Homo sapiens: one gene and its partners. The protein of the gene in region 1 interacts with the protein of each later gene in a biochemical or structural test. Each region holds a gene or a part of one and is shown in the gene's direction. Other genes may lie near its edges. The genes, in order: EIF2AK2, DHX9, TARBP2 and PRKRA.

Region 1 (7,950 bases):
AACTCATCTTAGTGTCAAAGCAGCCATAGACAATATATAGATGAATGAATGTGGTTGTGCACTAATAAAGCATTATTTACAAAAACAGGCAGCAGCCCAGTTTTGGCCCAGATCTATTCTAGACAATGAAATAATTAGCGAATAAAACAGTCAAAAATCCCTGTCCATGTGACTTTACATGTCAGAGGAAGGAGAAAACAAAGACAATAAATCAATAAGTTGTATTGTATAATAGAAGGCTGTAAGTGCCATGGAGGGGAAATAGAATAGAATGAGGGGGATAGGGAGTGACAACAGGGTGACAGTAGTGATTGGAACTTAAATAGTGTAGTCAGGGGGCTTCGTGAGCAAGTGACGTTTCAACAAGATCTGTGAGTTTTGCAGATATCTGAAGGATGAGGTTCCAGGCAAAAGGAAGAGCAAGTACAGAGGCACTGAGACAGTAGTATACCTGGCATTCTTGAAAAACCACAAGGAGGACAATGTAACTAGAGGAGAATGAAAGAGGGGCAGAGAAACAAGAGACGAGGTTAAAGTGGCAACCAGGGTGCAGGAAATATAGTGTCTTGTAAGCCCTTGATGATTCTGGGCTTGACTTTTTTCTTTCTTTCTTTCTTTCTTTCTTTCTTTCTTTCTTTCTTTCTTTCTTTCTTTCTTTCTTTCTTTTCTTTCTCTTTCTTTCTTTTTTTTTTTTTTTTTTTTTGAGACAGTCTCTCTCTGTCGCCCAGGCTGGAGTGCAGTGGCATGATCTCAGCTCACTGCAACCTATGCCTCCCAGGTTCAAGCAATTCTCCTGCCTCAGCCTCTGGAGTAGCTGGAACTATAGGCATGCACCACCATGCCCAGCTAATTTTTGTATTTTCAGTAGAGACAAGGTTTTGCCATGTTGGCTAGGCTGGTCTCGAACTCCTGGCGTCCAGTGATCCACCCACCTCGGCCTCCCAAAGTGGTGGAATTACAGCCGTGAGCCACCACGCCCGGCCTTCTTTCTGTATTCTGCATGATGAAAGGGACAAGGCAGATCTCTGGGGCCTCTTTTATAAGAGCACCAGTTCCACCACCCAAAGGCCACACCTCCTAATACCATCACATTGGTGATTCGCTTTTAACTTATGAGTTTTAGGGAGGACACAAACATTCAGACCATAGCGATGATTTTATAATAATGTGCATGTGGGGACTATTGACAAGAAGAGTTTATAAGTAAGCAAGACAAATTACTAAAGCAGAAACATCTGAGGAAAAGAGCCACAAGAGATATGGTACAACATAAATATGGACCACTCTACAATTTCCAAAAGCAGGAATAACAGTTATTATTTTTCCTCTGCTAGTAAAAAGAGAATTAAGAATAATTGATACATACGATTCTTCTATCTGTGTCTGATTCGTTGCTTTAGCATTACACATTTTGATCTAAAAGTCACTGTATTAAAAGAGATAGACTTATGGGATTGACTATAGGTCAATAACCATACTGATATTCACAAAGAGTTACGTAGTAAGGCCTGAGAAGCCCATGTGGATAAACTCACACATATCCTCCATTCCTGCTGTCACAGCCTCTTTATTTGTTGAAACAAGCACAGGGATAGCTGGGGAAAAGGCTAACAGAAGTCTTCTTGCTCAACTGCTTCTCAAAAGCCTCTTTAGAAGTGGTTGCCTTTGGTGAACATTCAAAAGGGAGCCCAATATGCACACTCTGCCCATTCGAAGTGGTTCAAGCACATCATTTCCCTAGACCTCATCATCAGCCCTCTGATATCATTCCTTCCAACTCTCTGAACATCAGCTGCATTGCCAGCCACTGGCTCTGTATAAGCCACTGAAGGAGGGGACTTTGGATCTTCTTGGGGTCCATGGTTAGGAAGTAAGTGACTAGGTTGCATAAGATGAATCTACTCCAATATTCCTGACTCCCTAAGTATTTTTGATTTCTTCATCTGCATTACTTGGCATTACATTTACATTTAGTGTGAGCTGCCACTGAGCTGATATTATAGTAAACCAACTGGGCAAACTGGCTTAGCGCTCCCACTGCTAGAGGCAGTACATCAACTTTCTTTCTTTTTTTTTTTTTTTTCTTGCTCTGTTGCCAGGCTGGAGTGCAGTGGCACGATCTTGGCTCATTGCAACCCCGACTCCCTGGTTCAAGCGATTCTCCTGCCTCAGCCTCCCAAGTAGCTGGGATTACAGGCACATGCCACCACGCCCAGCTAATTTTTGTATTTTTAGTAGAGACGTGGTTTCACCATGTTGGCCAGGATGGTCTCAATCTCCTGACCTCATGATCCGCCCACCTCGGCCTCCCAAAGTGCTGGGATTACAAGCATGAGCCACCGCGCTCAGCCTCAACTTTCAGCTTTCTTCACGTCATCTTTAGACTCATTGCCATGTCTATTTCTTGCTTTCTGTTGCTCTTTTGTTGTGTAAAGCATCACCCCTCCATCAGATCTTGTCCATATCCTCTTGGGGCGCATTAGCATCTGATTCTAGTTCTAGGAGTGAAGGCACAGGTAGAGATAGGATATTTGGAGAATCAGCACCTCCTTGCAGGGTGACTGTTTCATGCTTTTTAATGTAGGCTGTACCAGCCTTATCAGACAATGGTGGGAAGCCTGTGGAGACACAGCAGAATTTAGGAGGGCAGTGGCACTTGGATTCATTCAAATCCACCCAAATTCCCAGGGCTTCTTTCTTTCACAATCAATGCCCTCAGTGTTCACAGAAGAGACCTGATGAGGCTGCAAATGAAAATTTTTGTTGTAATTCTAGGCTGGGCGCGGTGGATCACGCCTGTAATCTCAGTACTTTGGAAGGCCGAGGTGGGGGAATCACTTGAGGTTAGGAGTTCCAAACCAGGCTGGCCAATATGGTGAAACCCCTTCTCTACTAAAAATACAAAAATTAGCTAGGTGCGGTGGCACACGCCTGTAATCCCAGTTACTTGGCAGGCTGAGGCAGGGAAATTGCTTGAGCCCGGGAGCCAGAGGTTGTAGTGAGCCAAGATTGTGCCACTGCACTCCAGCCTCGGCAACACAGCAAGACTCTGTCTCAAAACAATTATATTGTAATTCTGGTGCCTGCAGCACCAAGCTTTGCAGCTGAGAGCCCAGACAGTAGGGAATTGGGCTCCTCAGGGAGTCCAATATGCTCACACTTTACCCATTCCAAGAGGTTCACCCATATCATATCATTCCCCTGGACCTCATCACCAACCCTCTGATATCATTCCTTCCAAATCTTTCCCCAGCAGAGAAGGCAGATTTTTACATCACCCCTGAGGCTCCCTGAAATAGGAGGGTTTTCTGGTACAGTCATAAAAGCGTGTGTCCTCTGATCATGCTTAAGCTTGCCATTTTTCATTCTTTAAGCTCTCTTGGGCAGTTCAGGGGCTCAAAAAGTCAGAAAAACTTGTCCTTGCTACTGCCATTGCTGCTGCCACAGCCATCCCACACCCACAAAGCTGACAAATGGACACACAGCACTGTCAGAGTTTTCTTGTCACCTGGAAATGCCACAAAAAGATGGCTCTGCCTCATGTCTACCTTCTAAACCTCCCGCCAGTGCTTTACATATAGGGGACTTAAGCTATGCCCAGGACCAGAGCTACAAGGAAAGTGTAGATTTTAGTTGTTGATACCCTGCAATGTGGGGTTGTTGGGGGATGGAGAAGGGAGGCTGGAGAGGATGCCTGCCTAGGTGTAATTTTTTTTTTTTTTTTTTGAATTGGAGTCCCACTCTGTCACCCAGGCTGGAGTGTAGTGGCATGATCTCAGCTCACTACAATCTCTGCCTCCCAGGTTCAAGCAATTCTCCCTGCCTCAGCCTCTGGAGTAGCTGGGATTACAGGTGCCTGCCACCACGCCCAGCTAATTTTTGTGTTTTTTAGTAGAGACGGGGTTTTGCCATGTTGGCCAGGCTGGTCCTGAACTCCTGACCTCAGGTGATCCGCCCGTCTCAGCCTCCCAAATTTCTGGGATTACAGGCATGAGCCACCGCGCCGGCCTAGGCATAATATTTAATGTATATTTGAGGTCTGTCTTTGGACCACCTTCCTCTCTTATCCCAGCTAAGATACTGAGAGTACAAACTCCTGGTTATAATTCTAACTCCGCTGCTTACTACCTGTGTTAATCCAAATTCTCTGTGCCTCAATACTCATTAGTCACTGTGCCAATGAACTCTGGAACTCTGTGTGACTCTGGGAGTGTGTCGCAGTCCATCAGGTGAGTAGAATTTCTATAAATCGAGGACTACTGGTGTTGGACTATGGTAGGAAGCTCCCTGGGGTACTGTAGGAAGCAGGTGTCTCTATTTAGCAGCAGGACTGGCCCACAGGTGCTTTTACAGCGGCTGGCAAGTGTCTGCTCATGAATGAATGGATGGGTGGGAGCGGAGTGAAGGAGATTACGCCCCCAGGCCTCTGATCCCCAGGCTTGTAAAGGTGAGGGGGCCGCGGTGTGGCAAGAGGGAAAGAGTGCTTTGGTGTTTACAGGCCCCGACTTGAACTGAATCCTGGCTTTGCCACTTACGAGCGGCAGGACCCCTGGGTGAGTTCATTTACTCAGTTTCCTCTATTGTAGAATGGAGCTGGTAAGATCCATCTTCCCAACCCCACCCCAAATATTTGTGTTGAGAGTAAGTGGAACCCTTGATTCGAGAACCTAGTGCGGCCAGCGGACTAGGCCAGCGGAGAACCCTAGGAGCCCCGGGGGCGGGGGATGGGGGTGCAGGGTCCTGGCCGTGCAGGGGCAGCACGTGGGTGCCAAGCCCGCCTGCCGGTGCCAAGCCCGCCCGCCGGTGCCAAGCCCGCCCGCCAGTGCCTCTCGCGCGCACTCTGGATCCAGCGCCAATTTACCCCAATCCCGTAGCAGACGAGGGCTTGTGCGAGAGGGGGCCGGGCGGCTGCAGGGAAGGCGGAGTCCAAGGGGAAAACGAAACTGAGAACCAGCTCTCCCGAAGCCGCGGGTCTCCGGCCGGCGGCGGCGGCGGCGGCGGCGGCGGCGCAGGTGAGCAGGGCAGGGGGCAGCCGAGGGAGCGCGGGGAGCGGGGGCCGGGGGGCCACGTACGAGGGGCTGCAGGCCCAGCCGGGGCGGGACTCGCCAATCCTGCGTCCCCAGCTCAGGACGCGGACGCTGATCCGAAGCCCCTGGCCCCGGCTGGGTCAGCACTGGGAGAGCAGGCCCAGGTCCGCAGCCCGGGTGTGGGGCCCTCCCCAAATCCAGGGAAAGGATCGTGGAGCGGGGTGGGGACTGAAAGCCATTTCCTTCCCGTGAAGAATTTTTATCAGTGCAAGTAACAAATATTTCCCAGGCAGCAGTTGTGGGGCGGGGTCTAGTGGAAGACGAATAGGCCTAGTGGCTTGACACATGGAAAATACGGAGGCCTGAAATACTCATAGACTGGCTGAACAATCTTTGGCTAAAAATCTCTTCCGTGGAGAGTTGCAGTAGTTTCCCAATTGCCTGGCCGCAGTTCCTGTTCCCACTCCGTATCCTCACCCCTGAACCTCCACCCCCTACCTCTTCTCCACACCTCAGCATCTGGAATGTTCCTTTAAGTAAGAACCAGACTCTCCCCTGCTCCGACCTTCCCCGTAGCTTTCCTGTCTCATCAGAATCCTATAAACATTTATTAAGGCTCACAGGCAAGGCCCCTCGCACCCCCTACTCCGGCCACGCTGGCTTCCTTGCTGTTCCTGGTGCACAGCCAAGCATCCTCCAGCCTCTAGGCCTTTGCACTGCTTGTTTCTTCTTTCTGGAAAGCTTCTTCCCCAGATAACTGCATGGGGAAATCCCTCCCTTATCCTGCACTGCTTCCCATGCCAGCTTATCAGAGCAGCCTTCCTCAAACAACCTGCCTATACAAGAAACCCCGCTCTGCCCTTGCTGTTCCCCCTTCCACTACTTCGGTTGTCAACATAGTAGTTATCACCTGGTGACATTTTCTTTCTTTTCTTTTCTTTTTTTTTTTTTTTGAGACAGATTCTCACTCTGTCGCCAGGCTGGAATGCAGTGGCACGATCTGGGCTCACTGCAACCTCTGCCTCTCAGGTTCAAGCGATTTTCCTTCCTCAGCCTCCCAGGTAGCTGGGACTACAGGTGCCCGCCAGCACAGCCAACTAATTTTTTTATTTTTAGTAGAGACAGGGTTTCACCGTGTTGGCCAGGCTGTATGTAGTCTGCTGGAAAGGAAGTGGAGGCATAGCCAAAATAATTTCTGGGCATTAGTAAGATGGACAAATATTATTTTTTAGTGATTATGATGGAGGTTTCTTCCAGATGAGTGAATAAGATGTAGAATCTGCTCCCCAAAGAGCTCACTAATTAGTTTAAAAAGCAGTCAGGGCTGTGTTGAAGGTTGGGCAAGGTGGAGTGGCAAGCCCATACTAGCTGACCCTCCAGCATCAAAGAAGGCTGTGTTGATCCTGATAGATGAGTGGATATTGGTGGGTACAGAGAGAATGCAGATATTGCACTATAAATGTAGAGAAAAGCAGGTGACAAGTCCTGGATGGGGTATCTGGAGATATTTTGGTACTCACTCATTCATTATTGAGCCTGGTCCCTTACCTGTAGTAATTCATGCTCTATTTTGGAAAATAGTTAAATAAGCAATTTTAATAAAGGGGATGAGCACTGTGGAAGAGCCTGTGAAGGAGTGTCTGGGATTTTGAGCTGAAATCTGTAGGAAGTAGAAATTGACCAGGCCAAGACAGCAGAAGGAATAGAGTCAAGGGCATTTTAGGAGGGAGCAGGTTGGACAGAGGCAGTTGGGAGTTCAGGAGAGAGTCCATGGTGGAAGCGTGCTTTTGAGAACCATCATTGTGTCCGTGGAATTTAAAGCCACAAACCTGGAGGTGATCACCAGGGGAGTGAGTCCAAGTAGAAAAGAGCAAGTCTAAGGACCGGGCCCAGTGATGCTAGAATATCTAGAAAAGAGGAAGTTAGAACCATAGAAAAGGTTAAAAAAAAAAAAATAGAAGAAAAGAAGTTGAAGATGAACCAGGAAAGGAGACAGAAAAGGAGTAGCTTGTCAGAACAGAAGAAAACCAGGCCCAGGTGCCATGGCTCATGCCTGTAATCGCAGCACTTTGGGAGGCCAAGGTGGGTGGATCACCTGAGGTCAGGAGTTTGAGACCAGCCTGGCCAACATGGGGAAACCCCGTCTCTACTAAAAATATAAAAAATTAGCCGGGCGTGGTGGTGGGCGCCTGTAATCCCAGCTACTCGGAATGCTGAGGCAGGAGAATCGCTTGAACCCGGGAGGCAGAGGTTGCAGCGAGCCGAGATGCCACCATCACACTCCAGCCTGGGCAACAAGAGCGAAACTCTGTCTCAAAAGAAGAAAACTAGGAGAGTGGGTGTCTTAAAAGTCCAAGCTAAGACAGGGAGAGGAGGGCGAAGAGGATGCGCAACCCCATCAAATGCTGGTTGTAAGTCAAGTAGAGAAGGACTAAGAACTGACTACTGGATTTAGTGATAGGGAAGCCATTGGTAACCTCGACAAAAACAATTTCAGTGGCTTGTGGAGACTGCATGATTGAATTGATGTTTTTTTGTTTGTTTGTTTTGTTTTTGTTTTTTTTTTTGAGACGGAGTTTCGCTCTTGTTGCCCAGGCTGGAGTGCAATGGCACGATCTCAGCTCACCGCAACCTCCACCTCCTGGGTTCAAGCGATTCTCCTTCCTCAGCATCCCGAGTAGCTGGGATTACAGGCATGTGCCACCACCCCGGCTAATTTTGTATTTTTAGTAGAGATGGGGTTTCTCCATGTTGGTCAGGCTGGTCTTGAAGTCCCGACCTCAGGTGATCTGCCCGCCTTGGCCTCCCAAAGTGCTGGGATTACAGGTGTGAGCCACCGCGCCTGGCCACTGAATTGATGTTTTAAAAAGATCATGATGTGGCTGTATTAAAAAAGAAAACAGATAATAACAAGTGATGGTGA
Region 2 (7,019 bases), on another chromosome or scaffold:
AGGAGACATTCTGTGTAGATACAGGAATTACATGGTAATTGATAAATTGAAAGGACAAAAAAGTTGAAACTTGGTTATATCTGGCCAACTTGTACCCCATGACTTCTCTTTATAATTCCTTAGTCTGTCCTGACAATGAAAACAATTTGCTGCCAACATCCATTTTAGGAAATGATGAATAGCATTCTGTGCCAATCCCAGTCATTTAGTGGCAGCTGTCTCTGTATGTAACATTGAAGGAATCTGAGGTTACTTGGGGGTTCAAATGGACCACACAGGCATCACTAGATACAGATATCCTAAAAGTTACACTAAACTTTGGAATAGAGATGACTTAAATAATTACTTTCTTTTGTGTATGTGCCATATTCCATTTAAATGCTTTGCATTTGTTAATTTATTTAATGTTTACCAAAAAAACTATAAGGTAGATAATGGCATGCAAAGTTTGGCCAAGGCAGTTCAGCTGATAAGTGGCAAGTGGATGTTACATTGCCTTTTAGTAGGTTGACAACTAGGAGTTTGCAGTCAGATTGCTGATTCTTACTTGTGCCATTCATGAATAGACATCACAAGTAGGTATGGCTTTAACTACATAGTGGAAAGCATTCACTACTTAGTGGATATATAATAGTTATTGATAATACACATGAGTCTTAGAATTAACCACTTTTTCCTATGTAGGCAGAAAGTGAAACTCTTCACTGCTCACAACAATATGACCAACTATGCTACCGTATGGGCATCAAAAACAAACCTTGAGCAACGGAAAGGGCGAGCTGGCCGAGTACGGCCTGGATTCTGCTTTCACCTGTGCAGCCGAGCTCGTTTTGAGAGGTAAGACCCATTCTTGACCTTTAGTAAGGGATTTTTGTTCTGTTCTCTGTAGGGACAGATGTGTGCAGTTATGTAAACCTGCCAATATAAGCTGATCTAAGTCTTGCCAGCCATGTTGGAATCAGGTGTAAATGTTTCGTAAGAATCTTCATCACAAATCATTTAGAGAATAAGCCAGATTTAGAAATATAGAGACCTAGATTTTAATATTATTTGTGCCTAATACATTGTATAACACTAAGTGGTTACTCCTTAGGCCTGCATTTCCCTCATTCTATAAAATATTAAGTTACTTAACCTCTCTTGTTTCCTCAGTTGTAAAAAGAATATAAATAATGCCTAACCCATAGGGTTGGTATAAGTATTAAATGATTTAATAATGTAAAATACTTTGAACAGTGTATGGCACATCATGATCTCCCAATAAGTGTTTGCTGTTGTTAATTTATACAGGTCAGATATCTCTTTTAAAACTGAAATGCTTGGGACCAGAAGTGGTTTTGGATTTTTTTTCTTGGTAATATTTGCATTGTATTTACCAGTCGGGCATCCCTAATCTGAAAATATGAAATCCAAAACGCTCTAATGAGCATTTCCTTTAAGTGTCATGTCAGAAGTCAAAAAGTTTTGGATTTTAAAGATACATCTATAAGAGCCTTTCTAGTGGCACTAAAATTACATGAACTAGGAAGGTGGGAGGTTGTAGAGAAATGTTAGTATGAGTTATCATCCTACAAAAAGTCTTGTTGTCGTTTTTAACCCATGTTTGTCAACAGGCAAGGCCTGAAGAGACCATGGGTGGAGCTAATAACATTCGCGATTTTGGATAATTTTTTCATTTTTCTTCTCAGCCTAAAAGGCTATCAAGCTGTGAGGATAAGTCAGAAACCACTATGCAACCAGATTAAATTTTGTCAACAGTGTGTATAGTGAACGATAAAAGGTCCGATGGTAATTGTAAAATAAAAGGATGAGGAAAAGGCAGCTCTGTATCCCTGATTACCTTGCTGCAAAAAGTTTATTAACATCTGTGTATACACAAGGAGGATGGTTATTTTATGCTTATTTTCTCTTAGACTTGAAACCCACATGACACCAGAGATGTTCCGAACACCATTGCATGAAATTGCTCTTAGCATAAAACTTCTGCGTCTAGGAGGAATTGGCCAATTTCTGGCCAAAGCAATTGAACCTCCCCCTTTGGATGCTGTGATTGAAGCAGAACACACTCTTAGAGGTACTTACAAATACAAACCTACTTGACGCAGATATTAATCATACCATCTGTCTTGTTCTGGCAGATAACACTTACAAATGAATCAAGATGATGAAGATGTAGTCAACAGGGCTGTGATAATAATAGTAAGGCCTCCAGTCTTACCTTAGATAGTTAGTATAGTCACTGTTCTAATGAGCAATGAGAAGGAAGAAAGGGACAATGTGAGTCTTTAAAAAAGAAAAGAAAACTTAAAAAGGCATCTCTTAACTATGTACTAAAGATCAGAACATAACTTACTCATGATACCCACAGTATTTCATATGAATCTCTTACAACTTTTTTTGTTTTTTTGAGACGGAATCTCGCTCCATTGCCCAGGCTGGAGTGCAGTGGCGTGATCTCAGCTCACTGCAACCCCCACCTCCCAGGTTCAAGCCATTCTTCTGCCTCAGCCTCCCGAGTAGCTGAGACTACAGGCATACACCACCACACCCGGCTAATTTTTATATTTTACTAAGACAGGGTTTCACCATGTTGGCCAGGCTCTTCTGAAACTCCCGACCTCAAGTGATCCACTCACCTCAGCCTCCCAAAGTGCTGGGATTACAGGCAGGAGCCACTGTGTCCAGCCTGGAACATTTATTTTTTCTTGCTAAACTTGTTAGAGGTACAGTGAAAATTAAGGGCATTGGAGCTAGATCTGAATTTGAATTTTGAATCTAGCATTTATCTACTATGTAACTTCAGAATTTTCTCTAGATTTTATTTTTTTTAAAACATTAACAGCTGGGTATCAGACTTCTTATGGCATGTAGAAACTTACGCTGCTATTATAGTTAATACTGTATTTATAGACTTCATATGAATTGTATTTGTTTTTATAACCTACAGGATTTAGTTGTAGTACCTTTATGTTGGGTGCTCCAGATTTTGATTTTGTTCTATTTTTGAGTACAGAGAATTGTTGGCCGTAGACATGGTATTAGCGATTGGCTTGACAAAAGAGGAACTCTAAACTGTCTTAACCTTAATTTAGAGTAATGTTTTGTCTGCCTAAAATTAGTGTTCATTTGTTTCTGCTCACAAAGAACTATCTCCCCACAGAGCTTGATGCATTAGATGCCAATGATGAGTTGACTCCTTTGGGACGAATCCTGGCTAAACTCCCCATTGAGCCTCGTTTTGGCAAAATGATGATAATGGGGTGTATTTTCTAGTAAGTGCTTTGTTTTATTTCTCTTCGTTAAGTGGCAGAATAATTTCAGAATCTTCTCCTCCCTGTAAAAGCAGTATTGGCTCAGATAGACAAAAAAAAAATCCTAAATGTTCTTCAGGGAAGTAACATACCTAGATATTGAGAGCAGTGTAACACTAAAAAAATGAACAGTTCCAGTAGGTGGATATCTGGGCCCAATATGGGGAAAAGGGCACTGATTTCTCAAAAGTTAAAAGCAAGCAGGCCAGGCAATGTGGCTCACACCTTGAATCCTAGCACTTTGGGAGGCCAGGGTGGGAGGGTCCCTTGTTATTAATAGTTGGTCTTGAAAGAGCGGTGTCAGGAAAAGAGGTTTATTTTATCAGAAAATGTTGAAGATTAAGAGATTTGGTATGATGGGGAAGAGAGAATATAAAAGGAAAAATATACTTGGTCATAATTTATGATAAATATGTGGCCATTAGAGCATCAGAGCATTTTTTTCTTTCTGATTCTGAAGAGAGCAGCTATAAAGTTCTTTGTTAAGCCAGTTTCATTGCAAATAAAAGTAGAATCATAGCCATAAAGACTGCAACCCACAGTCGACAGTCCTACCTGAGCTGCTGGCAACAACATTGTGATCTAGTCTGGATTTAACTGTCTTTGTGTATTTCAGCGTGGGAGATGCTATCTGTACCATTGCTGCTGCTACCTGCTTTCCAGAGCCTTTCATCAATGAAGGAAAGCGGCTGGGCTATATCCATCGAAATTTTGCTGGAAACAGATTTTCTGATCACGTAGCCCTTTTATCAGTATTCCAAGCCTGGGATGATGCTAGGTATGAGTAAGATTTGGGTGAGCTGTCTGTAGTTTCTCATTTGTATTTAGTTCTCTGGTCTTAGAGAATGATTTCTCATGCCAATTTATTTTAGAATGGGTGGAGAAGAAGCAGAGATACGTTTTTGTGAGCACAAAAGACTTAATATGGCTACACTAAGAATGACTTGGGAAGCCAAAGTTCAGCTCAAAGAGATTTTGATTAATTCTGGGTTTCCAGAAGGTAAGACTTCTTCCATTCTTAAGATATCTTTAAAGTGACATTTATATAGTACATGCAAATTGACAGCAAAGTGTATTTTAGTTTCAAATTTTAGACCCTATGATTTTTATATATTCCCGACTATTTCTTAGTTCTCGTGAACACTGGTCTAGTTCCCAGAATGAGTACTTTGCTGATAACCTTATAGTGGTTTGCAAAGTAATTTATTAGCATTTAGACTTGAAGTAAATTCTACCACATTAAATTTTAAATGACTTTAATTTATACTTTCGGTGTACAGATGATTAAAGGACTTTATGACATCTAACATAGAAAAAAACCAACCCATGTTTCTTGATGAGCTGTAGTACTTTTCTTTTCCAACTAGGTTAAAATATAGAATTACTTCCTAAAACATTGAGAACTGGAATGCATAACCAGAAATAAGACTGTTGAGAGACAGAAGGTAGTTGGGCAAGATGGTAAATTTTTAAAGGCTGTAATTGGAATAACTAAACAAAGTAGTGAGTGGTTCTCTTCTGTCATAAGCCAGCCGAAATTTTAGTTTTTCCTCAAAATTATAAGAAAGGGAAAACTTCATGTGCTAGAATCTTGAGATGAATTTTACAGGTAATGAAACAGGCACCAAGGTATAAATTGTCTTTAATTCATCCAATTAGGAGGCTATAAGACTAGAACTCGTTTGTCTAGAACAAAATATGTCTGTGCTTTCAGCGGTTGACTGTCATGCTTTCCAGTCAGTAGCTAAGTACTCAAAGTGTAGACTGGGTAAAAACGTCAGCCTTCATTCCAGTAGGTGTCCTCTTAGATTATCTCCATCTTCTCTACAACTAACAGCTATTTAAGAGTAGCAGATAAATACTTTGTGGTCCTATCAGTCAAGCTCTTATTCTCAGAGTAGATGGTTGATTGGGGGACTTTAAAAAGTAATCACCCCGGCCGGGCGCAGTGGCTCACACCTGTAATCCCAGCGCTTTGGGAGGCCGAGTCAGGTGGATCACGAGGTCAGGAGATCGAGACCATCCTGGCTAACACGGTGAAACCCGTCTCTACTAAAACTACAAAAAATTAGCCGGGCGTGGTGGCGGGTGCCTGTAGTCCCAGCTACTTGGGAGGCTGAGGCAGGAGAATGGCATGAACCCGGGAGGCAGAGCTTGCAGTGAGCAGAGATGGCGCCACTGCACTCCAGCCTGGGCGACAGAGCGAGACTCGTCTCAAAAAAAAAAAAAAAAAGTAATCACCCCAAGCTTATTTATGGTTGAGTCTATAAGAGAATAGAGACGTTTTCGTTTTCTTATTGTGGAAACTCAGTAACATTACTCCTTGAACTTAATCTGGGTGTAAGGATTCTGAGAAGAGAAAGTTTTACAGACAGGTTATGTGAAAAGAGTGAGGAAGAGTCAGTTCTCTGAATTATCTTAAATAGTTTGCATGTAATGTGAAGATCAGCCAGTTATCTGATTTTTGTTTTCACTGTGCTCCTCTTAACAGATTGTTTGTTGACACAAGTGTTTACTAACACTGGACCAGATAATAATTTGGATGTTGTTATCTCCCTCCTGGCCTTTGGTGTGTACCCCAATGTATGCTATCATAAGGAAAAGAGGAAGATTCTCACCACTGAAGGGCGTAATGCACTTATCCACAAATCATCTGTTAATTGTCCTTTTAGTAGCCAAGACATGAAGTACCCATCTCCCTTCTTTGTATTTGGTGAAAAGGTAAGAAAAGACTAGAAAAGTTTACATTGAAAGTTGAAATTGTCTTTACAATCATTAGGAACATGAATTTTGATTTTCAAAGCACAGTATATAGCGGTATTTGGAAGTTGGAATGTCAACCATTTTGTATTGTCTCTTTCTCCATTTGCAGATTCGAACTCGAGCCATCTCTGCTAAAGGCATGACTTTAGTCACCCCCCTGCAGTTGCTTCTCTTTGCCTCCAAGAAAGTCCAATCTGATGGGCAGATTGTGCTTGTAGATGACTGGTATGGATTTTCAGATGTGAACTCCAAACTGAATTCTTAGAATTACAATATGATGGAATTCAGCTGCTAATCTAACTTAATTATATACTAATTATATCTAACTTAATTATATACTATATACTTAATCTTAAATTGATACCAGTAGAAGCAAATGCATTAGGAATTTGAGCCATGTCTACCACTAGGCACACCACCACTATGGAATCAGAATCTAAGTGAAGCTTGAGTACCCTTTCACATACTCTGTATATTGATTCAAAACTAGTGGTAAGCACTGGGCAAAAATGGAATAGAGCTTAATGGACAGCCAGTAGGCTCAGCCATCATATTCTTGAAAACCTAGAAAATGCCAGTATTCTGGGTCTCTTAAATTCATTATTTTAAAGTCTGGATGATCTGGCTGGGTGCGGCACATCACTTGGGCTCAGGAAGTTCAAGATCAGCCTGGACAACATGGTGAAACCTGTCTCTACGAAAAATCCAAAAAAATTAGCCCCGTGTGGTAGCGCACACCTGTAGTCCCAGCTATTCTGGAGGCTGAGGCAGGAGAATCACTTGAACCTGGGAGTTGGAGGTTGCAATGAGCTATCACGCCACTGCACTCCAGCGAGGGCAACAGAGCAAGACTCTGTCTCAAAAAAAAAGAAAGTCTGAATGATCCATATTGCTGGACTTTGTTTTTTGTTTATTATATATTGCATATATTTTTATTATATTTTA
Region 3 (7,372 bases), on another chromosome or scaffold:
CTGGCCAGTTGGGTGACCTGGCCTGAGACTTTTCAACAAACCTCAGTTTCTTCATTGCTAAACGGGGACAGTGGTACCTATGTCCCACAGTGGCAATGCAGTACATAATGTGGTGGGTAAGAACACAGGTTCTGGGTTACACAGACCTGGGTTCAAATCCTACCTCTTGCCACATACTAACTTTTTTACTTTAAACAAATTACTTAAGTTTCAGTTTTCTCCTCCATCAGAGATGATGATAACACTATCTCACTTGGTCTTGTTACGGGCATGATTAAGAAAATCAAAATAAAGTTCTTGGCCCAGGACCTGGCACACAGGAAGCTCTCTATAAGCATTAGCCATATGGAAAGTGCCTAACACACACTTGTAAGTTTTTTATGAATGTGATTCCCTTCCCTTCTTTCCCTTGTTCTCTCTCTCAAAGCAAGTGCCAGTAGGGAGGGTATGGGTGGAAAGGGAGGTGGAGAAACAAGAGGGAAAAAAAAGACCAAAGAATGAAGAAACCAAAGGGCAAGGGCTCTATCCTGAATGATCTTTAGCCTCCTCTGGAATCTGGTCACTGTCACAGTCTCCTCACCTTCTCCACGCACACATATGACCCCAGTCCTTCTGGGAGCCAATGAACCAGACAGACCAGTCTCTGTGGCCAGGCCCTCATGAAGCCCCTATGTCCCCTGCTGGCATCATCTCAACAGTATCCTCCTTCTTCCCAGCATCACCTCAGTCAACAGTGTGAGTGAATGCATGAGTGGCTGGCGTGAGGGGCAGACATTTCCACCTCACTGGAAGAAGCATGGCAGCTGGGGGTCCCAGGGCTTGACTGGTGTAGGGCTGAGGACCTGAATGTAGGGGTGATCTCCAGTCCACCCTAGCAAGGACTTCTTACAGGGTTGATTCCTTCTTTCTCTCCAGATCCAGGCAGGGGAGAGGGAGGACTGTGCATTACGAGAGTCCGGGCTGTGAGTGGTAGAACCAAGAGTCCTCTTCCTAGAAAAGCCTGATCCTACCACAGTGTCACCACGAGGGGAAAAGCAATTGGTTTTTAGAAGGGTTCTGCCCTCTTCAGCTATAAGGAAGCCTAGGAAATCCTGAGCCATGTCTAACTTCTTGCCTCCTCTGTCCATAACTGGGATGGATATTTAGCTGGTGTCTCCATGTTGAGAGCTGGGGTTTTCCTAACATTACCCCAGTTGACAATGGGAGTGAGTGGATGAATGATACGCTTGAGGGGACACACTTTTTTTCACCTGTAAGTGTGAGATAGGAGGGAGTGGGGCCCTAAAGCTCAGAGAAACTTCAGTGTCTGGACAGGAAGGCTCAGGGGGCACTTGAGTCCTATCCTTCCTAAATCCTTTCTGTTAGCCTTAGCTTGGTAGGACCCTCTGGCTGAAACTCAGAGCTCCTAGAGCAATGGAGTCCACCTTGAGAACTGCAAGGGAAATGTGTTTAGAGGGATGCACTGACTGTGGCTTGAGACGACTCTGGGTGGGGTGAGGAGACCTCATGTGCACTCCCTTCTGATTGGAGGCCACTCACCTACGCTCCTCTGAAAAAGGCAGCAGATGAGCATCTACAAGGTAGGACTCCTCCCTTAATTCTAAGGGACACCTCACTGTTTCCTCCCACTGTCTACAGAGCCTTGACTCTTCCCTCCTCTCAGTCAAGGCCTTGGTTACCAGCAAGTCTCAACTCTTGTTTATTTTTAAGCCAATGAGTTTGAGGAGTGTTTGTGGGAAAGGGAGGAGGTTTTTGGAGGGCCTGACTGGGGGAGATGGGTTAGGGGAGCCAGAGGAGATGGAGAGAAAGAGGAGGGAGAAACCCACACGTGAATGGGGGAGGGGAGGATGCAACAGCTGGATGGAGGTGAATGCCACAGCTGGAGGTGAATGCCACAGCTGGAGGGGATTAGGAGGATCACAGCTTGAAGGGGAGGGGGACCAACGCCTGGGCATGCAGGAACAGGTGCTCTCTGACTAATCTTCAGGTCCAGCCTGCTGTGTGTGTGTGTGTGTGTGTGTGTGTGTGTGTGTGTGTGTGTGTGTGTGTGTGTGTGTGTGTGTGTGTGTGTGTGTGTGTGTGTGTGTGTGTGTGGAGATGGTGGGTATATCAGTCCTTGCCCTTCCTTTCCTTCCCTAGAGGGGGCCAAAACTCTCCCTCCTCCTTCCCTCTCTCTCTTCCTGAGGATGAGTGGGAGGAGATGTTCTCTTGCCCTCTGTCCTTTAAGTCTGTCCCCCAATCATCCTCCACCCCACCCCAATACGGTCCTTTCCAGCTCTGGAGGCCCTTCGTCTCCAAGCTGGGCCGCGGCATCCCTCCGCTCCATTCCCTTCCTTCCCAGCCCCACAGGCGTCGGGTCCAGGTCCCCAGTTCCTCCATCCCCACAGCCTCAGCATCCCCACGCCATCACCCCGCACCAGGCCACATCTGCATCCCGACCCTCCCTCCACGCCCGGATCCCAGGACCCAGACCCATCCCTGCCCCCCACCCCCCCACAACTCGGCCAGGCTCTCACCTCGGGGGCTCCGCGGCCGCAGCACAAAAGGCGGCGCTGCTGCAGCTCCGCTCCGGATGCTGCTCCCGCCTCCTCCTCCTTCTCCTCCTCCTTCCCTCCTCCCCCCGCTGCCCTCCACCGGACCCGGGGCGCTGTCACAGGCGATGCTCGTGCGGTGTCCGGATGCACGGGTGTCAGCTTCAGCTTTCTGCCCCCACCCCCCGACCCCTAGCCCCGTCCCTGCTCGGCTTGAACTCCCGCTCCTTCCAGGGCCCCCGCCCCTGGCCCCCCGGGACGGACACGCCCTGAGCGGGGGATGCTGCGATGGAGCCGCCGGCCTCTTAAAGGAGCCCGCTGCTGCCATCCGGCGCGCTCCAGGCTCGTACCTGGCCCGCCTGGGCCCCGCGCCTCCCTGCTGGCGGTGTCCTATGGAGGTCCCACCTCAGGCCTCAGGCTGATTCCACAGGAACCCCCTATGACCCGTCTTATAGACTCCTTTCTACATCGGAGAGAGCAGCCCCTCAGTTGGGATCCCTAGCGCTCTGGCATTGCTCCCCCTATCATACCGATCTTGCCAGCTCTCCTTCCCTTGATTGTCACCACTCACTCCAATTTCACCCACTTGGAATTCACTCGGCTCTAGGCCCCATCCTCCTCCAGTGTTCCTGGATGACCCCTCATTATCATTTCAAGATTCCTCTGGACCTCCAACCCCGGCTCAGAGTAAGACATCTTTCTTGACCCCTTCTCAGAACACTCATTAGAACCTTTTTTTTTTTTAATGTGGTCTCTCCCTTTCTCTCTCCAAGGTCACAAGATTTCCCTCAGCCCAGTGGTTGTGCAACTTTGGGGGAGGAGGCAATGGGGCTCTAGGACTAAACAATGCGCGTCTGCTCAACACCCAGATCAGTTGATTAATCTTAGGCGGCCAAAATTCACTTTTGCTCTCTTCAGCTGAGAGACCCAAGACTCATGGAAGAGGGAACAAGACCACCAAGGTGCCTAGTCCTTCTAATCCTGTCGTCCCACATTACAGCCTGATTATCAGGCCCCAGAGGTTTCCTCGCCAGTTAAAGAGAGGTTCACTAGAGCGGTTCTAAAAAGGTTTCACAAAAGAAGCAACACCTGAAGGGAGGTGAAGGACGACCTAGGAAAAGGAAGCAAGTTCTGTGTCACGGAGGCCCAAGGGCAAGGGGCTTAGGCTGTGGGTTGAGGGGACTGTCTGAGACGGACTTAAACCTGCACCAGCTCCAGAGCCCTGCGGAAACAGAGATCGGTCCCCTCCGGCGTCTAGGTAAGGCCCACCCTCCCAGACCGCAAAGAGCCAGGATCCGACGGCAGCCTCTCCGGACCAATCACAACCTTCCTTCATCAAGGAGGCGGGGTCGGGGGGGGCTGACTTTTCCTTGTCTCCGCCCCTTTAGTCGAAGTAACCAATCTCAGTGCACCTAGGGGAAGTAATCGCAATGGGAGTAACCAATGACGCCATGAAGCTTCTCGTGCGTGCTTGACCCTGCCTCTCCAGCTGCGACACAGATGGCGCGCGGGCTCTTGGGTTCTGTAGTTTTCTCGCGATCCAAAAGGCTCCGTGCCCAAGTGAGTCCTTACCGCCTCCCTACCCAGCGGCTTCCCCTCCGCTAGTACGCATGTCCACAGCTTCACGGACCGGGAGAGAGGGGGCGCGGAAGGAAGGAGGCGGGACGGTATTACAAACAAAAAAATACGGCCTTCTCGAGAAGCGACGGCGGAGGGCCCGCTCCTCCCAGAAGGCGGTGCAGCCTGCCCGGGCGAGCCACGCACGCAGAGGGTTGTGGGGCGGATAGCTCCCCTCCAGATGGAGGCTCACGAAGTAGGGTGGGCGGGGGACTCCATATCCCAGCGTGCCCCGCGGCGGGCCCTACCGGCCGCGACTCCGGGCTTGGCCCCGGCCCTAGCTCGTCGGCTGTGTATTGGGGCGCGTGGAGGCTGCAGTCACGGTGGCGCCCGCGGGGACGGAGGAGGGAATGAGTGAAGAGGAGCAAGGCTCCGGCACTACCACGGGCTGCGGGCTGCCTAGGTGAGCCGTCTCGTACCGATTCCTTCAGGGCGAAAAGCGTGGGGCCGTGCGGAGGGAGTAGCGGCGCGGCCCCAGCATGCACCTGGCCTGAGGGTTGTTCCCGGCAAGCACTGGGGCAGTGGGCAGTGGTTCCCGGCGTGCACCGGGGCAGTGGCTGCTGCCTCCAGCTCTAAATAGTTTGGGGTTGGCCCGGTTCCCAGACTGCACTGGAACACTGGGCTTTATGCCCCCACATTCAGTGCATTTGGTGGGTACTGGGTTCCTGGCTTGCACTGTGTCAGGGGGTATGCACTTTCAACCTGCATTGGGGCACAGGATCGTGCCCACCTTAACTGAGGCAGGAGCAATGCATTCTTCCCCCCTTGCTTTGGGGTAGTGGGCCCTACTTTTCCAGCCTGCACCTCCACTTGGAACCCAGCCAATGGATGCTAGACTGTCTGGGGTTCCTTGGACCCTATGTCCCCCATAATGTGCCTAGGTCTGGTATGGAAGTGCTTGGCTAGGTGGGTGCAGAGAGGGGAGGTGTGATGTGGGTCTGTGCCCCTTCCCCCAGTATAGAGCAAATGCTGGCCGCCAACCCAGGCAAGACCCCGATCAGCCTTCTGCAGGAGTATGGGACCAGAATAGGGAAGACGCCTGTGTACGACCTTCTCAAAGCCGAGGGCCAAGCCCACCAGCCTAATTTCACCTTCCGGGTCACCGTTGGCGACACCAGCTGCACTGGTGAGGAAGGCTTGGGCAGCCTGGCTGGGGTGTGCATTTGCAGGTCCCCATGGCTTTGTTTCTTGGAGTCTCTCTCTTCACAGTCCTTTTCTCCAAGGCCAGTGAGGGAAGGAGAGATTTCAGGGGAAAAGCTACTGACTGGATTGGGAGAACAGGGCTGTAAGAAGGTGGGTAGGACGTGGGAGAGTTAGAGGAGCGAGCAGGACTCCCACAGTGATCTGGCAGATCCCCATCACCCTAGAGGAAAAGTAAGAGAAGATAACTGAAATCCCAGTGGAGTATTTGGGGGAGTGAGTGCCTGGCGTGCTGGGCTCTGTTCCCGGTGCTTAACCAAATTCCCGTTTAATTTTAAACCTCAGTCTAACCAATGATTGTAGGTGGTAGTATCCGCCCCCCCGACTCCTCCCCCCGCCCGCCCATGTTGAATATGAGGAAACTGAGTGTTTGAGATAGTAAATGGCTGGTGCATGGTCACATGCCTAGTATGTGGCAGAGTGGGGCTTTTACTCCAGAGCCTACCCTCTCTTATTCCAGCTCTCTGTATTTATTGAGGGAAAAGAAAGTGCTTTGCAAAGGAAATTAAAGCATTTGCGCTCAGAAGTCCACCCAAGGCGTTTGAGCTCAGAAGTCCTGCTTGGCATGGCTTAATTCTGGAAGCTAACGGAAAGATAAGGGCTCTTCCTTCCAGCAATTAGTGAAACACTTCCAGTCTTCAGCAGGGGGAGGTTGGTCAGAAGGGGCTTGATTGATTCCCTCTGGCTACGAGGAGAGAGGCTGTGGGATGCTGGTTTCTTTCCCGTCCTTTCAGTGACCTCCAGTATTGCCCATGCCCCCTCTCTCAGGTCAGGGCCCCAGCAAGAAGGCAGCCAAGCACAAGGCAGCTGAGGTGGCCCTCAAACACCTCAAAGGGGGGAGCATGCTGGAGCCGGCCCTGGAGGACAGCAGGTGAGGGAGGAACCGAGGCATCCCAGAAGCCCTTCAAGGAACCCAGGCCCTGCACCACCCACTCTGCCCCGAGGCCTGGCCAGGTGACACTTAGCCACCCTGACCTGGCCTCTTCCTGAGAGTCCCTCTGGACCTGAACAGGGTTTTCCAGGGCTTCTGCTGCTATGAAGAATTCTTGGGGTGGAGGGGTTGGTTAGCCCCATAGAGGGGTTGTGGCAGTAGGTTGGGGCCTGGGTTAGGGAGGGAGAGGGGTAGAGGCTTGAGGCTAAAGGGAGTTACTCCCCAACATACCTCCTTGTTCTAGCAAGATGTCCTTCCTTCACGCGCAGGTTGGAGTTTGTTGCTCCTCTGGTTCTTGGGTACAAAGATACCCTCTTCTCTGAGACTCTCTTTTCTCAGTCTTTTCGCCGGTGTTTGGCAGCAAAGGATCCGAGGAGGAAGCTGTTGGTTGAGCCTCCCTGATTCTTTGGCTCAATTTGGAAGTTCTCTTAGGGGATTGGGAGGTCAGGAGGACGTGGGTCCCCCACCCCTCTCTTCCCCCTATACATGGGTGTGAATCAAAGGCCCCCTTCCCCTCGGGAAGTTCTTTTTCTCCCCTAGACTCTTCACTGCCTGAGGACATTCCGGTTTTTACTGCTGCAGCAGCTGCTACCCCAGTTCCATCTGTAGTCCTAACCAGGTATCTGTGTCCCCTGACTGCCTGAGGTGGGTGGAGGAAGGGGTTCTGGTTTTTGGTCCCTCAGTCCTTGGACCCAAGCTGGTCAGGCATGAGGAAGTCTGAGAATAAACAGAATGGAATAGTTGGGAACCAGAACTTGAAGAAATCACAGCAGCTGGTAAGCTCTTGGGACAAGAGGTCATTTGTGATTTTCAGACAGCCTTATGAATGATGTCCGACCATGTTTAAGGGTCTTGCAGGCCCCATTTTCTTCTGGGTTGACCACATGTCAGTTCTGTGTTTGAGGCCCATCAGGCACTTCTGGGACTGGAAATACAGCTCTTCTCCCACTGTCCTGGCTTAGATGATACCCAAGTGTTCCAGAATGGAAATGGGCTGGGGCCTGGAGAAGGCCTCCCTTGAGTGGGAGGGGGAAGGAAGCCGGCTAGAGCAGGAGGAGCAGGCTAGATGTGTGGACAGACAGCTCCCCACCCG
Region 4 (7,711 bases), about 140 Mb from region 1:
AATACACCCAAAAGAAATGTAATAATTTGTCTCTCCTCTCTATTTTCTTAAAACATGCTTATGCAGAATGTTTCACTCTGTCTGTTGAAAGTCTGTTGAAGGGGACTCTATTTGTTGCAGACAGATTGCTGTATTATTTAAATCTAATAATTAAGCAAATGTGTGTAGAGCCAAAGTAATTTTGTGGAACAATTAAAAGTTTTGTTTAAGCCAAGTGGTTTTTTTTTTTTTTTAGCTGGGCAAATCATTTTAATGTGTAACAGTAGGCCAACTGGGGAGGACAAGACCCCAAGCCCCAGCCTTTCTCCTGATGCCCTGGGACCTGTGTGCCTGGGCCAGTCCCATGCCTGCCCCAAGCCCTGAGGCCCACAAGTCCCAGAGAAGAGTGGGAAAGAAAGTTGGGTGGTTGCAGCTCAGCCCCAAGAGTTCAGGGAGGGAAAAACAGGGGCTAGTTGAATTTAGCCTTGGAAAAATCCATCTCCGGATGCTGATCCATGAACTTCTTCAGAATCTCCTGTTTCTTCTGTTCGTCTGAGGTTGGCAGCCCCATGGACTTCTGTTACTGGTCATAGATTGTCTTTTCCACCATGATGTGAGTCTCACTGTCCAGGTCTGACAGCTTGGAATTCTCAGGGTTAATCTTCTTGGTATTGATCTCAGGGTCACTGGACACCAAGCGGCTCCACCACTCCATCTTCTTGATCTTCTCCAGATGCACAGTCACCACCTTGCCGTCCTCAATGAGCCACGAGCTCTCCTCCGCCTTCACTTCGTTGTAGAGCTCCCCATCGATGATCGCTGGCTGCCCCTTGAGCCCCACCTGGAGGTGCCGCCGTTGGATGCCACCACCACGTCCTTCCCTTTCAGCTGGAAGTCCACACAGAAAGGGACCGCCAGGTCCAGCTCCGACAGGGTCTTGGTCCAGCGGTAATCAGGCAGGTCTGCCCTGTTGCCTAGGTTGGGCTTCAGTTTTCCTTTGTCCTTCTCATCTTCCTCCTCCTCATCTTCCTCAGTCTTCTGCTTCCCTGGGGAGTCAAGGCTGCCATTCTTGATCTGGGCCTCATGATTCTCTGCATCCTATTTCTGGTCAATCTCTAGCTGCAGCCTCTCTGCCTCTTCATCAGTTAGCTCCTTGATCTGGGGCCCTGAGGTCTCTGACTTCAGCCAAGTGATTTTTGATATCTATCCTTATTCAAAGTTTGGATATACTACCAATGTATTTCAAACATATCTAGCAAATTACACTAGTAAAATACAACCTCAATGTTTTAAGCATTCTTTGTAATGAAGTTTATATACCTAAAGTATTTAATGAAAACACTGAAATATATTAGGATTATTATACTGACCGTGTAGTAATTTCTTTGAGTAATGTTGATACTTCCACTTCATGTTTGGTTACTATACCAAATGAAGCTTTCACTGCAATGGAATCTGATCCAGCAACGTTAATCCCAACGTCATTTACAATATGGTTACCTCGCCTTCCATAGAGTGAAACATCTGATTCATCTTCATAATTCAGTAATTGATAAGATGAAATACCTTTATAAGAAGAAACTCAGTATTTTTTAAACATCTTTATCTTATGTAGATTATATATAGTAACATGTTAAATTAACAATTGAAGACTCAAATACCCAAATGTTAGAGAAAGGCAACATGACTCACCAAGACTTAAAGTAGTAATTCAATTAATCTTACAACAAAAAGAAACACATAGCCAGAATTCTTAAAAGGAACTCAAATTTTCTATTCAGCCAACAGAACTTCTTAAGCATCAAGATCCACCGGGCAATTAAAAGAAAAAATAAGCGTTTATAAGTAGTAACTCATCAAAATATCAGCTTATTATATAACCTACCCTTCAATACATTTCAGTTTACCAATTGTAATAATTGAATTGTAAAAAATAAATACAAATTATTTTCATCTCATTTGACCATGTAACATAGGTAAGCCCAAATAATATCCCATTTTATAGATGAAGAAATATGTCATATTCTAAGTTGATTTGGTTAAAACAATTTATAAAATAATTGATAGATTTGAAAATTATTTGACCAATAAGAGATTTGATATTATACAAACTTTTGGCATTGTTAATCTTAATAATGTTATTACACTAACATCATAATAAAAGTTGCTTTAATCATTGAAAATGTGTATTACTAACATAAGTAGCATATATGACCTATGTTTAGGTTGCCAATAATACAGATGAATGAGTTGGCACTCCCAAACATTTAAACTTACCAGCTGAAATTTCTCTGTCTCCTAGGAGAATATCTTTCAGTGTAAAAGGTGTTGAAGTAAATTTATATCTAGGAAACAGAAAGCATCGCTTCTTTTTTACCACCAGACTTAGAGGTTGATATTTGTCAGCTTCACTGAGGCTTGGAACAGGAACTAATCTCCCTCCATCTCCAACTTGCTTGACAAAGCTCTTGGTAGCAGCAGCAAACATATTAAAATCAAAACGTCATCAACTGCAACCCCCAGATAAATCCATTTTTAAAGAGGAAAATCAGGCACAAAATTAAGCATTGCTTGTTTTTAAATATAATTATACATCTTAAAAATACAAAGCATGGTTTCACCAAGTAGTTTACCACTGTATAATTCCCTGCCTCTGCTCATGTGCTCAGGTAATGAATTATAGATCAACGGTGTAAAATGATATGCTAAGAGCATGTTTAACTTGGAATGGCAGGCTATAGCACTAAAATATACACAGAAAACTAATAACGTAAAAATATGACCAATGTCTATGATAAGGATCACAGTAGATAGTGATTTGCCACTGGCAATGGGCCAATTTTAAGGGAAGCATATAGTGCTGTGGGAAGCAATGCAATTTAGGCACTAACGATAGTCCCGGATACAATCTACAGTGGACCTAGTCCAAAGGGAATTCCTTCACAAGTCCACCACCGGAATTTTGGCAACACCAAAGTGCTGTTTTGAATCCTCATGGCATACAGCTCATTGATTGAGCATTTCATTCATTTTCCATCTTATATGCTTACAAAACTGTGTTTAATATTAAATATAAATTCACAGATATAAACAATTATATGCAAATCTTTATTTAAAAAATAAAGCCACATTACATATAAGTAACTATATAAACTATTACCTAGTGGTTTCTTACTCTGAAGTTGGGCACACAGACTCTCTCTCTTTGAAATGGAGTCCTGCTGCATCTTTTTGTTTCATTATTATCCCAGCTACTTAACCTTTAACAAGAGCTATATAAAGTTCTGGCCTGTTTTTAAGTAATTTTGTGGCAAAAAATGAATTTTACCTGAGTGCTGAAATGTTTTGCCATAGGTGTTATGCGGAGTTCATATATTGTGAAATACTGACTATGTAGCCCTTCCAATAAGATATCCATTAAAACAGTGATGGATAGTAATCTATATACATACATATATAGACGGAGAGGAAGAGAGAATAGGCTCTAATTAAAGCATCAGATGATATAATTTGATTAGATTCTGAACATCTTTCACTTGTTTCAAGCATCCAGGGCTTACATGCTAACAAAACAACAAATCGCTTTTTTTTTTTTTTTTTTTTTTGAGAGGGAGTCTGACTCTGTCGCCCAGGCTGGAGTGCAGTGGCGCGATCTCGGCTCACTGCAACATTTGCCTCCCGGGTTCAAGCGATTCTCCTGCTTTAGCCTCCCGAGTAGCTGGGATTACAGGCGCATGCCACCACGCCCGGCTAATTTTTGTATTTTTAGTAGAGACAGGGTTTCACCATGTTGGCCAGGCTGGTCTCGAACTGCTTACTTCAGGCGATCCGCCAGCCTCGGCCTCCTAAAGTGCTGGGATTACAGGCGTGAGCCACCGCGCCCGCCCATAAATCACTTTTAATAATATCCTTTCGTACGAATAGCATTGTGCAAGCAATCTTCCATAACACCGAGTAAGCACAGGGGAGCATTTCTGCTAGTGCCTAGCAAGCCCCTGGAGAAGCGACACGTCATCTAATGGCCCACCAAAGGTGCTGCATCCCAGGCAAACGCCATTACAACCGACTACCCAGGTCCCCGGAAAGGCCTTCGTTTACTCCTAACGTGTTTTGCTGGGATGCACTGACCCAGCGTTCCATCTCGCGACGAAAGCCCAGAAGACAAAGGAGCCCGCCCGGCGGGAGAGGAGCGGGTGTTTGGACGTCCCCGCGTGTTCCTAAACACAGGGCTCGGGGACCCGAAGAGCGCACCGCAGCCCCCTGGAGCGTATATATCCGGGGTCTCAAGCTTCAGGACCAGGCCCGGGAGACTCCCTGGAATTCTGCCTTCGTAATTTTAGAATCTTTTTCTTAAAGTGACCCAGCCCCCAATCCGTCCTCCCCACAAAGGCTTAACTTTAGGCCTCAACGACCCTAGACCCACGCCGGACAATCCCTCTAATCCCTCTCTCCCGGCAAGAAACGGCCTCCTGCTAAGGACAAAGAACTGCGGCCTAGGGGCCAGTTACTACAGGCTGGTCAGGGCCGGCAGGGGCGGGCGCGGAGAACCCCCGGGAGCCCAATGCCTGTGCCCACGCGGGAGCGGGGCGGAGCCGGGCGGGAAGGGGGCGGACCCTGGAAGGGACAGGGGCGGAGTTGGGCCGGGACGGAGGCCCGCAGAGGAGCAGCGAGGGGGCGTAGCCGGAGCTACGGCACCAAGGCTCCGCCCCCACCCTGCCTGCCCCCTCGCTGGAGCAACGCAAGCAGGAGGCGGGGGAGTCGGAGGAGGTGGCGGCGCTGGAGCTCCTCCCGGGGACCAGCGACCCGGGGAGCGAGCACGTCGCTCCGCACCGCTCTTCCTCCAGCCGCTGAGCCGTCCCTTCTCGCCATGTCCCAGAGCAGGCACCGCGCCGAGGCCCCGCCGCTGGAGCGCGAGGACAGTGGGACCTTCAGGTCAGCGTGCGGGCAGTCAGGGCCCCAGGGCCGGGAGCGTTGGGCGGCAGGGCCGGGGCGCGGGGAGCCGGCCCTCCAGAGGCATTCTGGGTAAAGCCGTGCCCGGCGCCCACGCCTCCGCGGCTGTGGGTGCTCGGCCCCGCCCTCTCGGCGGCGAGGGTTGGGGTCTGCGGCCGGGCCCCGCCCCTCTCGTGGTCCCTGGCGGCGCGCGGGGCGGGCGGAGGTGACGCTCGGTCGGCGCGCCCGGGAAGGGATCGTCAGGTTTTCCCTGAGAGGCTGCGGCGCTGCTGCCAGCCCTGTTCTGTTGAGAATCTCTCCTACCCGCATTCAAGTGCTCTCTCTAAAGACCTCGCTCACCCCGCCTGCTCCTGCGGAGTGACTGCCGCAGCGGGGCCGGAAGACAGGTGCGCCCCAGCCTCGCCAGCTCTGGCCCTGGCCTCCGGGGAACTCGGCGCCTCCCTCGTCACCGTCGGTGGCGGTTAAAACTGGCCTCTACGCTTCTGCTTCAATCTCCAATTTGGCATGCAAAGCACACCTTTTTGTGGTTTTTGCAGTTTGGGGAAGATGATAACAGCTAAGCCAGGGAAAACACCGATTCAGGTATTACACGAATACGGCATGAAGACCAAGAACATCCCAGTTTATGAATGTGAAAGATCTGATGTGCAAATACACGTGCCCACTTTCACCTTCAGAGTAACCGTTGGTGACATAACCTGCACAGGTCTGTATACACAGTTAACCTGGATGACCGAGTGGGTTGGCAGTCAATACTTGGTGTTGCTTTTCAGTTCGGAAAAGTTCTCTTTTTGCCAGACAGCTGTGAGGAACAGGCTCTGAAACTGAGACCTCTCATCTCAGGTCGTTAGGGCTTTTCAGCTGCATCTGATTCTCTTCCTAATTTTCTCTTCCCCACATACCAAGGAAGCTTAGAAACTAAAAAGTTACCCAGCCGGATGGCTGGATCCTGCATGGCTCTTCTCATACCCTAGGATCCTCCTAGGGTTCTTCTTAGAATTAGAGGGAAGCAGGAAAGGTTCTTGGAGCAGTCATAGCTGGGTCAGTAGGTACTGTGAAGTTTCATAGATTATAGCGGATGCCAGGAGGCATGACCCCAGAATTTTCTGAGCGTCTCTCCTCTCTGTATGGACTCATTTGGCACTTTAGGTCCATTGTGCTACTTTTGATTCTGTATCCAAACAAAATGAGGAAGGGGAGAAGGTCCTCATATATTACATAATAACTTCTAGTTTTTGAAACTGAACAGATATTTTGTATATTATCCACTTTTTAAACAAGAAGAAACAGGTTCAGAGAGATTATAAGTAACATGCGTATAGCAATGAAGTCACAAAGCAATGAAATTTTAAAGTTCATGCTTTCTTTTGGTCTGTGAGCTTGAGCAAATGATAACTAAAGTTGCTCATTTGTAAATGTGGACATTATTTTTCTTATGTATCTATTTAATTGCAAACACAGAAAACATTGGATGCTAAATTTAATTTGGAAGAATGCCAAGAAAAAAATTTAGTAGGAAGGCTCAAGTTCTACCATCTGGAAAATCTGAAGACAGCATTTGTTTGTGTCCCTGGAAGTTTGGAGTCTTTTATTTTAATTGATGCCACTTTAAGAAAAGTTTAAAACTTTTTGTGTGAGGCAGTTAGATTGTAGGTGCTGGCCGGAAGGGTCCCCATGGGAACCATAGAGTCAACACTGCATTACTTACTTTAGCTAGTCTATTTCTAGATAGGAAGAATTCAAGAAAAGGGAGGGTTTTTCCCTCTCAATGTGTTTTAGACCCCAAATTAACAACCTATGGCAACCGTTCTGCCTACGCCCTCTTCTCACACTACCATGGCTTCCTGTGCAAGCTTATCTGCCTCCATGGCTTCTGATACTGTCTAAAGACTAATATTCTGAAATGTCTGTCTACATCCCAAGCCCAGTTACAGAATAGTGTATCAGTCTGTGCTTGCTGAGCATCTTTGCCTGGATGACACAGAGGCCCCTCAAGCCTCTCATTGTCCCAAACTGAATCCATCTTTTCCCTCAAACCCATTCTTCTTGCATTCCCTTTCTATGTAAAGGCTCCACAATCACCTAGTTCAGTAGAAATGTAGGCTTTTGTCTTCCTAACTACTTCCCGTCTTTCTCCCTCTTGTCCAGTCTGTTATTAAACTCTATCCATTGGCGTTTAATAATCCACTAACTATCCATTGAATCTGTCGGCTTCTCTCTTCTGGCCATTGCTACTGCCTAGGCCACCATCATCTCTCACTTGGATTGTAGCTGCAGTCTTGTAGCTACACGTTTACCTTCTAGTCTTGTGATGTCCTTTTGTCACATTACAACCAGTGTTCATTCTTTTTTTTTTGAGACAGGGTCTCACTCTGTCACCCAGGCTAGAGTGCAGTGGCATGATCTTGGCTCACTGCAACCTCCGCTACAGCCTGCACTTAGGCTTGTTGTAACATATCCCATTCCATACTTCAGGTGCCTATTAACAGACAAAAATCCCACACTACTCTGTTGGCTCTTGAGGGCAGGGACCCTGTATGCTATATCCCTAATACCTGTGTTAGCAGATAAATATATGGTTTCTGTGTCTTCTTACACTTGAGGGCCACACTTGAAGGCCACACTTGAAACTTATTCCATGAGGGTATGGGAGTTTGAACTTAAAAGGAAAAAGATGGAATTTATCATTTGCCATTGTGATTGCTTACTGAAATTAGACATCAGTCTTATCCCCAGTCCCAACTTAGCTACCCATGCAGAAGATACAGACCGTCCAGAAGAT

The links.
Region 2: the proteins of EIF2AK2 (region 1) and DHX9 form a complex in vitro, tested with the Homo sapiens proteins (2 studies listed by BioGRID, with this or other methods).
Region 3: the proteins of EIF2AK2 (region 1) and TARBP2 form a complex in vitro, tested with the Homo sapiens proteins (2 studies listed by BioGRID, with this or other methods).
Region 4: the proteins of EIF2AK2 (region 1) and PRKRA form a complex in vitro, tested with the Homo sapiens proteins (3 studies listed by BioGRID and IntAct, with this or other methods).

Annotation. Positions count from the first base shown.
Region 1 is NC_000002.12:37,153,970-37,161,919, reverse strand, and holds the start of EIF2AK2 (interferon-induced, double-stranded RNA-activated protein kinase), read left to right. Parts: upstream 1-4,939; 5' UTR 4,940-5,012; intron 5,013-7,950.
Region 2 is NC_000001.11:182,877,337-182,884,355, forward strand, and holds part of DHX9 (ATP-dependent RNA helicase A), read left to right. Parts: intron 1-684; coding exon 685-837; intron 838-1,913; coding exon 1,914-2,074; intron 2,075-3,160; coding exon 3,161-3,272; intron 3,273-3,927; coding exon 3,928-4,089; intron 4,090-4,183; coding exon 4,184-4,311; intron 4,312-5,802; coding exon 5,803-6,032; intron 6,033-6,183; coding exon 6,184-6,299; intron 6,300-7,019. UniProt on the Homo sapiens protein: Multifunctional ATP-dependent nucleic acid helicase that unwinds DNA and RNA in a 3' to 5' direction and that plays important roles in many processes, such as DNA replication, transcriptional activation, post-transcriptional RNA regulation, mRNA translation and RNA-mediated gene silencing.
Region 3 is NC_000012.12:53,496,911-53,504,282, forward strand, and holds the start of TARBP2 (RISC-loading complex subunit TARBP2), read left to right. Parts: upstream 1-4,372; 5' UTR 4,373-4,498; coding exon 4,499-4,551; exon of another isoform or gene 4,552-4,629; intron 4,630-4,675; exon of another isoform or gene 4,676-4,798; intron 4,799-5,104; coding exon 5,105-5,274; intron 5,275-6,116; coding exon 6,117-6,219; exon of another isoform or gene 6,220-6,302; intron 6,303-6,802; coding exon 6,803-6,898; intron 6,899-7,372. UniProt on the Homo sapiens protein: Required for formation of the RNA induced silencing complex (RISC). Component of the RISC loading complex (RLC), also known as the micro-RNA (miRNA) loading complex (miRLC), which is composed of DICER1, AGO2 and TARBP2.
Region 4 is NC_000002.12:178,448,166-178,455,876, reverse strand, and holds the start of PRKRA (interferon-inducible double-stranded RNA-dependent protein kinase activator A), read left to right. Parts: upstream 1-4,701; 5' UTR 4,702-4,846; coding exon 4,847-4,911; intron 4,912-5,119; exon of another isoform or gene 5,120-5,433; coding exon of another isoform or gene 5,434-5,465; coding exon 5,466-5,635; intron 5,636-7,711. Other genes in the region: PJVK (pejvakin), read right to left, coding at 1,350-1,545, 2,257-2,446, 3,308-3,433. UniProt on the Homo sapiens protein: Activates EIF2AK2/PKR in the absence of double-stranded RNA (dsRNA), leading to phosphorylation of EIF2S1/EFI2-alpha and inhibition of translation and induction of apoptosis.